Linked DNA regions of Homo sapiens. The protein of the gene in region 1 interacts with the protein of each later gene in a pairwise test. Each region holds a gene or a part of one and is shown in the gene's direction. Other genes may lie near its edges.

Region 1 (3,762 bases):
AAAGCCCAGGACCTGTTGGCTTCCCTGCTGAATTCTACCAAACATTTAAAAAGAACTAATACCAATCCTATTCAAATTCTTCAAAAAAAAAAAAAAAAATTGAAGAGGAGGGACTACTTCCAAATTCATTCTAGGAGGCCAGCATTGCCCTGATACCAAAACTAGACTAGGATACAAAATAAAAAGAAAACTACAGACCAACATCACTGATGAGCATAGGTGCAAAAATTCTCAATGAAACACTAGCAAACTGAATTCAACAACACATTAAAAAGATCATTCACCATGATCAAGTGGGATTCACTCCAGGGATGCAAGGATGGTTCAACATATGCAAATCAATAAATGTGATATATCACATTAATATAATCAAGAACAAACACCATATGATTATTTCAATAGATGCTGAAAAGCATTTGATAAAATTCATTGCTTTTTGATAAAAACCCTTGTCAAAATTGGTATAAAAGGAACATACCTCAAAATAAGGGCCATATATGACAAACCTACAGCTAACATCAAACTGAAGGCCTTTTCTCTAAGGACTGGAACAAGATAAGAATGCCCATCTCACCACTGTTGTTCAACATAATACCCGAAGTCCTGGCCAGAGCAATTATGCAAGAGAAGGAAATAAATGGCATCCAAACCGGATAGCAAAAAGTCAGGTTAGTCTGTTCGCAGATGATATAATCTTATACCTCGAAAAACCTGAAGACTACACCAAAAAAACTGTTAGTGCTGATAAACAAACTAAGTAAAGTTGCAGGATAAAAAATCAACACTCAAAAATTAGTAGCATTTATATACTTCAATAGTGAACAATCTGAGATAGAAATCAAGAAAATGATCGCATTTACAAAAGCTACAAAAAATATAAAATACTTAGGGAATTTAAATACTAAAAATTTAAACACCAAATTAAGTTAAATTTAGTGTTTAAATTCCCTAGGCATTTTATATTTTTTAGTATTTTATTTATAATTTATAATTTAGCATTTAATTACTAAAGAAGTGAAAGACCTGTATAAGGAAAACTAAAACTCTCATGGAACAAATTGAAGAGGACACAAAAACACTGGAAAGATATTCCATTCTAATGGATTGGAAGAATTTATATTATTAAAATGACAATACTTCCCAAAACAATTTACAGATTCAGTGTAATCACTATCAAAATACCAATGACATTCTTCACAAAAATCAGAAAAAAAAATTCATGTGGTGAGCCCTTAATCTAATGACTCATATTCTTATAAGAAGTCCATATTTGCAAATTGACCAAGGGGTTGAAAAAAAAGAAAGAAAAATGCCCAAGTGAAAACACACACAGGGAGAATGCCATGTGATCACTGAGGCAAAGATTTGTATAACACATCTGCAAGCCGAGGAACACCAAGAATTGCTGACAAACACTAAAAACTTGGAGAGAGGCAAGGAAAATTATCCCATGGAGCTTTTTTTCTTTTCTTTTCTTTTCTTTTTCTTTCTTTTTGAGACAGTCTTGCTCTGTTGCCAGGCTGGAGTGCAGTGGCGCGATCTCAGCTCACTGCAACCTCTGGCTCCCTGGTTCAAGTGATTCTCCTGCCTCAGCCTCCCGAGTAGCTGAGATTACAGGCAAGCGCCATCACGCCCAGCTAATTTTTGTATTTTTAGTAGAGATGGGGTTTCACCATGTTGGCCAGGATGGTCTCGATCTCCTGACCTAGTGATGTGCCCACCTTGGCCTCCCAAAGTGCTGGGATTACAGGCATGAGCCACCACGCCAGGCCTCCCATAGAGCTTTCAAAGATAACATGGCCCTACTGATATCTTGATTTTGGATTTCTAGCCTCCAGAGCCATGAGATAATACAATTCTGTTGTTTTCCACTATTGAGGTTGTGGTACTTTGTTACAAGAGCCATAGGAAAGCAATATAAGTTACAAAACAAATTATGGACTGATAAAGGGAGAAAATAAGGAGGTATGATATTACAGATACACTTCCTTCATTGTGTTTCACTTTATTGTGCTTTGCAGTATTGAAAGTTTGTGATGACCCTGTGTGGAACAAGTCTGTCAGCACCATTTTTCTACAGCATGTGCTCACTTTGTGTCACATTTTGGTAATTCTTAAATTCTTAAACGTGACACTCTGTGTCACATTTTGGTAATTCTTAAAATGTTTCAAACTTTATTGTTATATCTGTCATGGTGATCTGTGATCAGTTATTTTTGATGTTACTATTGAATTTGTTTTGGTGTGCCACAAACCATGCCCGTTTAAAATGTCAGACCTAATCAATAAACATTGTATGTGTCCTGACTCCTCCATTGACCAGCTGTTCCCTCATCTCTTTTCCTTTCCTTGGTCCTTGCTATGTCCTGAGACACAATAATATTGAAATGAAGCCATTTATAATACTACTACTACAGTGACCTCTATGTGTTCAAGTGAAAGGAAGAGTCACATGCCTCTCAGGTTCAATAAAAAGCTAGAAGTGATTAAGTATAGTAAGGAAGGCATGTTGAAAGCCGAGATAGGCCAAAAGCTAGGAGGCCTCTTGTGCCAAACAGGCAGGTGGTGAATGCAAAGGAAATGTTCTTGAAGGAAATGAAAAGTGCTACTCTGGTGAACATATGAATGATAAGAAAGCAAAAAGCTTTTTGCTGATATGGAGAAAGTTTGAGTGGTTTGGATAGAAGATCACACCAGCCACAGCATTGCCTTGAGCCAAAGGCTAATCCAGAGCACATCTCTTACTCTCTTCAATTCTGTGAAGGCTGAGAGAGGTGAGGAAGCTACAGAAGAATAATCGGAAGCTAGCAGAGGTTGGTTCGTGAGGTGTAAGGAAGAAGCCATCTCTATAAAATGCATCAGCAACAAGTGCTGATGCAGATGCTGCAGCAGGTTATCCAGATCTAGCTAAAATCACTAATGAAGGTGGCTACACTAAACAACAGATTTTCAATGAAGATGAAACCACCTTTTATTGAAATAAGATGCCATCTAGGACTTTGATTGCTAGAGAGGAGAAGTCAGTGCCTGGCTTCAAAGCTTCAAAGGACAGCCTGACTTGTTAGGGGCTTACGCAGTTGGTGATTTTAAAGTTGAAGCCAGTGCTCATTTATCATTCTGAAAATCCTAGGGTCCATAAGAATTATGCTAAACCTACTCTGCCTGTACTCTAGAAATGGAACAACAAAGCCTGGATGATAGCACATCTGTTTACAGCATGGTTTACTGAATATTTTAAGCCTACTGTTGAGACATACTACTCAAAAAAGAAAAAAAGATTTCTTTGAAAATATTACTGCTTATTCACAGAGCACCTAGTCACACAAGAGCTCTGAAGGAGAGGTACAAGGAAATTAATGTTTTCAAGCCTGCCAATACAATACACATTCTGTAGCCCATGGATCAAGGAGTAATTTTGACTTTCAAGTCTTATTATTTGAGAAATACATTTTTTAAGGCTATAGCTGCCATAGATAGTGATTCCATAGATAGTGATGGATCTGGGCAAAGTAAATTAAAAACCTTCTGGAAAGGATTCATCATTCTAGATGCCATTAACATTTGTGATTCAAGGGAGGAGGTGAAAATACCAACATTAACAGGAGTTTGGAAGAAATTGGTTCTAACACTCATCATTGTCTTTGAGAGGTTTAGGACTTCAGTGGATAGTGTAGCTGCAGATGTGGTGGAAAGGACTAGTATTAGAAGTGGAACCTGAAGATGTGACTGAATTGCTACAATCTCATGACAAAACTTGAACAG
Region 2 (2,856 bases), on another chromosome or scaffold:
AATTGAAGGGAGGGTTACATGTACTGAAATAATCTGCATGCTAGGCATTGGCTTAGACACCGTACCTATCTCACTTAGATTTGTGGACTAGGAAAGCAAGATTCAGAGATCATGTGACTTGCATGTGGCCTAGAGATAAAATTCAAATCTGGTTCTGTAGACTCCAGGGACATATTCACCATGCCATGGGTGGTGGCTATTAAACCTTGATAAATTTGTGTTTATGGTTAACAAATGTGAAAGCTATTAAACATTGCTGGTTTGAATTTTTTACAGTGCAGAAATGTAAAATGAAAAAGGATATTTCCTTTCACAGTGTTACCGAGAAGTCATGATAATTTCGTTTGTTCTTCCAGATTTAGGCATATACTTATTTAATCAATAATGTGTTAACAGCTGACACCTGTGGTTGCTGTGACAGGCACTATTTGAAGTGCTTTATCATGGATTAACTCTTAATCCTCAGCTACCGTATAAAGTAGGACATAACCCCATTTCACATGCACTACACTGAGACTTGCCTCCTCTCCCCCCACATTGAAGATGTTCTTTTTTCATAACTATATACTATTCCATTGCATGAATATTCTGTAATTTATTTAATCCCCTATGGATTGATAATTAGGTTCATTATAGATAGAAGTGTAATTAACATTCCTGTACATGTATTTTGCTACTTGTGTGGGTATTTCTGTAGGATGAATAACTAGAAATTTATTGGATCAGGTTTCACATTTGCAGTTTTGAAAACTACTACCAAAAAGATTTCACCAATTTACAACTCCATCATTAGTAAGAATGCCTGTTTGCCTATAGTCTGCCAACCCTGAATCCTTAAAAATTTTTGCCAATCTGGTAGGCAAAATTTCTTTCTTTTCTTTGAATATTAATGAGGAGGAACATCTTTTCATGTTTCTTGGCCATTTGCATTTCCTATTATGAATTGCTTTTGCCCATTTTCCTTTTTTTAATTATGAAAGTCTAATGACTACCTTCTCATTGTATAAAAAACACAGTTCTTTGAATAGAGAGACCCTTTTCTCCAATGCTACCAATCACATTCCACTTACCACAGTTTAACATACATCCTCTAGTCACCTTTCCGTACGAATATACATACACATAAAAACACTTTTTACATAAATAGGATCTCATATTCTGTAGCTTTTTAAAATTTTGGTCTCAAAAAAAGATAACAGGTCTTTAAATTTCTTTAATGGTTGAATATGATTAAATACTATGAAAATGCCATTATTTATTCCCTTAATTTTTTTCCTCTCGCTATTACATTGCCAAAGTAAACATCCTATTCAGATGTCTTTGTGCATGTGTGTGAATATTTCTTTAGTCTGGAGTCCAGTAAGGTGGATTTTTGGATCAAAGGGTTTGTTCTCTGTCCACCTTCAGTCTTCCCAAAGGCCTTCATAACTGTATTTTCACCAAGTGTATGGAGAATGTTCATTTCCCCATATAACCATACCTACACTTGATAGTTTTTATCTGTTGGGCGAAAAAGAACCTTTTCTTATTTTGCATTTCCCTGATTATAAAAAAAAATGGTGAGATTGGGGTTATTTTCATGTTTATTGGCCATTTATAGTTTACTGTGGATTGTTTGTATCCCTTACCTGCTTTCTATTGGGTTATGTGTGGATATATTGTTTTTATTTGTTCAGCATCTCCTTCCCCATCTTCTGGTAACACAACCTTTATTTATTTGTGGGGAACCTATTCCCTGTGGCTTAGGTGAGCATGTGACCAGGCCTGGCCTCCTGAGTCCCACAGCTTCCTAGCCACAGTGATAAAAGAATGGGTATATAACTTAAGCCAGGCTAAGGAAAGCCCTTAACAGAACTTCTGCTGGAACTACTGGAAAGAAGGCTTTATGGAGATCCCAGGAACCAAGGACCATGTAAGCCTGAATTTGTGCCATGTGGAGAGAGTCTGTCTGAGGAGAAACTCGGATGCTAGCAGAAATGGAAAGAGAACTAAGTTCTGATGTCATTTTTCTGGAGGCCCTAGATCCAGCTGTGCCTAAAGCCTGCCCTACCTCCGGACTTTAAAGTTTTGTGAGCCAATAAAGTCCCTTTCTTGTTTAAGATAATTGAATTGAGTTTCTGTTCTGATTAATATAGGTTATTTGTATTTTCTTATTGATTTGTAGAAAACCTTTGTAATTTTAAATTCTAGACTTTATGCACTATATAAGTTAATAAAATTAGCATGGCCTTCCATGATTTGGCCTGTGTCAACTTTTGCCATTTGTTACTCCATTCTCCCTATAACACACACCCCACACACATACACTTTACATTCCAATAGTAACAACATTGATGTTGGGAATGTGGATGAACAGCTTTTTACACAATTGCCTCTTTGGCAGTTCTCTTCTTATTCTTCCTCTAGACTCATTAACCTGGGACTTTAAGGGTTACACTGCTGAGAGCTGTACCCATCTCCTACCATTGTTCTTGGGGGATTCCCCTCAAGCATTCCCTGTATACAACCCTTGGAGCCCTTCCAATGACCTCCATCCCAACTCCATGGTTCTCTGGCTCTTTGTTTCATTCTCAGGCCTGTGGACTCAAGACGTGAATGAGCACACACAGACCTGAGCAGCCTCACCCTGTGGGCTCTTTTCTATGGCCAGAAATGTAGCAGCGCTCTATGTCACCTGGCACCTCTATTAATCACATCTCCTAAGATGGAGTTTTCAAAGAGATGTCTTTCAAAATTGAGGAAAACATTTTGCAAGCTTTTATTCAACACATTTAAATGCCTACTCTGGGTCAGGCACTGTTATGGGATTTACATCTGTTGCTTGCGTGTGTGAAAAACTACACGTGGCAGTGGAAA
Region 3 (3,762 bases), on another chromosome or scaffold:
TGAGGATAAAAGAAATTCTATACGTTAGTTATGTATTGAACCCTTAAGAGGAAAAATGGAATGATATACTCAAAATTGCTATTGGTATTTTACACTGCATTATAAGATTTGATGTTGTGGATCACTGATGTTACATGTTGTGCACCTTATGTTTATCTTATATATAATGAAAAACACATTTAAAAACTCTGTTCATAGTTTAAGTCATATGAACACAATTTCATTTATAGATTCCATGTTGGACTAAGTATAATATAAAATAAAAGAACATTGCTATTGCCCTCAAGAATTTTACTTAAATACAGATAAAAAAGCCAATAAGTACACACATACTTTTACATACGCTCAGTCTGAGCATAAAATTTTTTATGGTCCAGTTGCTAAACGTTTGAATTTCTCAAATACTCCTATATTGAGATGCCACTTTTTAAAGGATTACTATGTTCAATCTTACTTAGACCTCAAGTACGTATGTTCAACAACTTATGAAACAGAACTTCATATCTAAAAGTGTTTTCTAGAGAGGTTTTGGTTTATCTTAATATCATACTACAAGCAGTTAAAGGTTTTGTTAATATTTTATAAGAAGAAAATTACATGCTTTCCCAAATGGACTGTGAGTTACCTGAAGGAAGATGAAAAAAATAAGAATTATATCTCCCCCCGTTGAGCTGCCGTCAGTCTTGCTGTCTTTGGTCTCTATTTGTTCCATGTCTAGCGCAGTACCTGGAAAAGTAGTAATTCAATAACTGTGAATAATATGATTGCATGTGTTTGAATAAATGAGTTATTACCAATTCTGTCTCCCTTTTTTTTCAGACTCCCAGGAAGGAAATTACAAGTCAGAAGTCAACAGCAAACCCAGGAAAGAAAGGACAGCATTTACCAAAGAGCAAATCAGAGAACTTGAAGCAGAATTTGCCCATCATAATTATCTCACCAGACTGAGGCGATACGAGATAGCAGTGAATCTGGATCTCACTGAAAGACAGGTAAAGCTGGGCATTATCATTATATGATCTTTTTTAATTGCCCTGGGTCCACAGTCTTCTTTGCCATATTTGAAATACCTAGATCCAGAATTCTTGAATACCATTTGGAAGACAGTTATACTATTCCATGATAAAATTTTGCCAGCAAAATAACAAAATTAAAAATAATATAGTGATATTTGAAAGAAAACCATACTTATTGAGTTGAAGAAAGAATCCTCCTATGATTATTATCCTTCTGTATTTTTGGGTTTTAAAATATTATTTCTTTTACATAATGATGGCATACAGTGAGGAGTTGTGCATGCTTATATGTTAAAATCTCCTTATTTGGCATATTAGAAAGTTGGTAAACCCAGATTAGTTTTCTGTATTGCTCAGGATAGGTCATGATAAGTTGCAGTAACACATTCACCCTCAAATCTCAATGGCATAACATAAAAATGTTCATTACTTACTCACTCTCCATACAAACTCTACATGTCCAGCATTCCAGATAATCACTCACAGACCCATTCTGACTCTTTAGCATCTCAACATGTGGTGTCCATGGTAACTACAAGAAATAAGAAAGAATTGGAAGTTTATGCACTGACCTTTAAATGTTTTCACCTGGAAATTAGCCATGTCACTTCTATTTACACACTAATGTCTAGAATAGTCAAATGGTGCGGCTTAGGTGCAAGATGGCTGGGAAATGATGAAAGGCAAGGACACATAGATCATTGGTAAATATTTCTGCCCCTTTACCCAAAATATTTTTGAAATTGTATCGGTGTCAGTAATTCAAAATTCTGCTACCCACTCAGAGAATACTTTGAAATTATTAATGTTTTTGGACTCCAATTAATGAGACCTAAATAATATTTTTAAATTAATTGCTTTTTAGGTCCCTTTCTTGCATTTTTTTTGAATGACAAATGATTTGTTCTAACAGTGTTCCCAGTGAATTCCTTGTACAGATTCTTGTTTCCCTGAGGAGAATCTAGCCTACTGCCGGTTAACAGTTGCTAATCTTTACAAAAACATTCCTGAAAGGCAAATGCAAACATCTTTATGGACAGTGCAGTTATGATTGGCACTCTTAGGGCTAGAGTCTCATTTCCTCTTTCACTGTGTGTACCTCCTCCAGGATCCCATTGGAACCAAAGAAATATCAACAGGGTGTGGACAAATGAATGCATGTCTTAAGAGAGCAAGTTATTTTATCCAATTTCTTAAATGACCTGCTTTCCTTCTGTTAATTTTTACATTTCAGCTTTGGTAGGTTATTTATGGGTAGTAGAAATATACAGAGGAACACTTTTCTGTGGTTTTATTTATTGGCAGTTTGTATTTTATTACATATTATGACTAGTACCTATGTTATGGAGCACAGCATTTTCCTTCCCTTAGACTTCACATACAAAATTCCCTCTATGGGTTCAACATTTGGCATGCTGGAAAGCAGGATCCAAAGTCTACATCATCAGACCTCTATTTTATTATTTTTTTTAAACAGGGAACGGAAAATAAAAAGGTGTATGTGGAGGGAGAATTACACACTAATGTTCTTATATAGAGATGGTGAATTCTAGGAAATGCAACCGTGTTTTATATAGTAGATGAAGGAACTAGGAAACTAGGATTTGCTTCCAATCTGTAGAAATGACAGGATCCAGTACTGTGCTCTCAGCCAAGAGGAAAAACAAGATTCTGTACTTGACATTTTGGGGGTGGTCTACGGTTATCTGTCATTGTTTGACCACGGAGCAGAATCATTTATCTTTAGAAGCAGTTTTGTAAATCTGGTTTGAAAACGTTGAAGGTGTCTTGGATATTTCTTCTTTCTAACTGACTTCAGGAGCTTGGTAAAGAATTACATGCAAGAATTATATATACCTATACATACTATTTTAATGTTGTTTTAAAGATTCTTTTAACATTTTGTGTTAGTTACCCTTTGCTGTGTAACAAACCACTCCAAATCTTAATGGCTTCAAATAATAACCAAAGTTTTATTTGCTTTAGGTTTTGTAGGTTAGAGATTTTGACTGGGCTTAGTTGGACAGTAATACTGCTGGCCCTACATGGAACCCTCATGGAGCTCCAGTCAGCTGGTGGGCTGACTAAGAAAGAGATGGTTGGGCCTCAGCTGTGGTTTCATCTTCTTATAGGCTAGCTTGGGATCCTTCCAATGGTGATAGAAGCATTCCCAGGAGCACTGAGGGGGAAAACTCCGGTGAGCAAGGGCTTTTCAGGCCTCTTACGTCATATTTGCTAGTGTCCCATTGTCCAAAGCAAGCCATGTGACCAAACTCAGTGTCAGTGTAGGACAAGATCGCTTCATTGGAAGTCATTCCTGAAATAATCTAACCACAGCATCACAGGGGGGAAATTAACACAGAACATGAGAGATAGTTCAGTTTTCATTGAATTGAAAATTTGTTATTGTGCACAATATATTTTTATTCCATAAATCTCTACGTGCAGTTTTGCAAGTTAATGTGAAAAGATGTATACATGCAGAATTTAAATTCCTAATCAAAACTAAGGCTTTAGAGGGCCTCCCTGGGTTAGTCAAAAAGAATTTAATTGTTATGAAAAAAATCTGAATAAAAATCCAAGGTTTGCTGATTAGAATTGTGTGTTCTTAAGTAAGTAACAATCTCCCCAAGGCATAAAATGGAAATTAAAACCTGCTCTTTCTTCTATGTAGATTTGTATATCATAATGGGTATGAAATAATTTTTAGTGTAAACTATAAAACAGAATTATCACCCAGGTGGGA

The links.
Region 2: the proteins of PGBD1 (region 1) and ZNF24 interact in binary tests that used the Homo sapiens proteins (3 or more experiments, as listed by UniProt).
Region 3: the proteins of PGBD1 (region 1) and MEOX2 interact in binary tests that used the Homo sapiens proteins (3 or more experiments, as listed by UniProt).

Annotation. Positions count from the first base shown.
Region 1 is NC_000006.12:28,291,469-28,295,230, forward strand, and holds part of PGBD1 (piggyBac transposable element-derived protein 1), read left to right. Parts: intron 1-3,762.
Region 2 is NC_000018.10:35,331,608-35,334,463, reverse strand, and holds the end of ZNF24 (zinc finger protein 24), read left to right. Parts: 3' UTR 1-2,237; downstream 2,238-2,856. UniProt on the Homo sapiens protein: Transcription factor required for myelination of differentiated oligodendrocytes. Required for the conversion of oligodendrocytes from the premyelinating to the myelinating state.
Region 3 is NC_000007.14:15,623,976-15,627,737, reverse strand, and holds part of MEOX2 (homeobox protein MOX-2), read left to right. Parts: intron 1-819; coding exon 820-992; intron 993-3,762. UniProt on the Homo sapiens protein: Mesodermal transcription factor that plays a key role in somitogenesis and somitogenesis and limb muscle differentiation. Required during limb development for normal appendicular muscle formation and for the normal regulation of myogenic genes.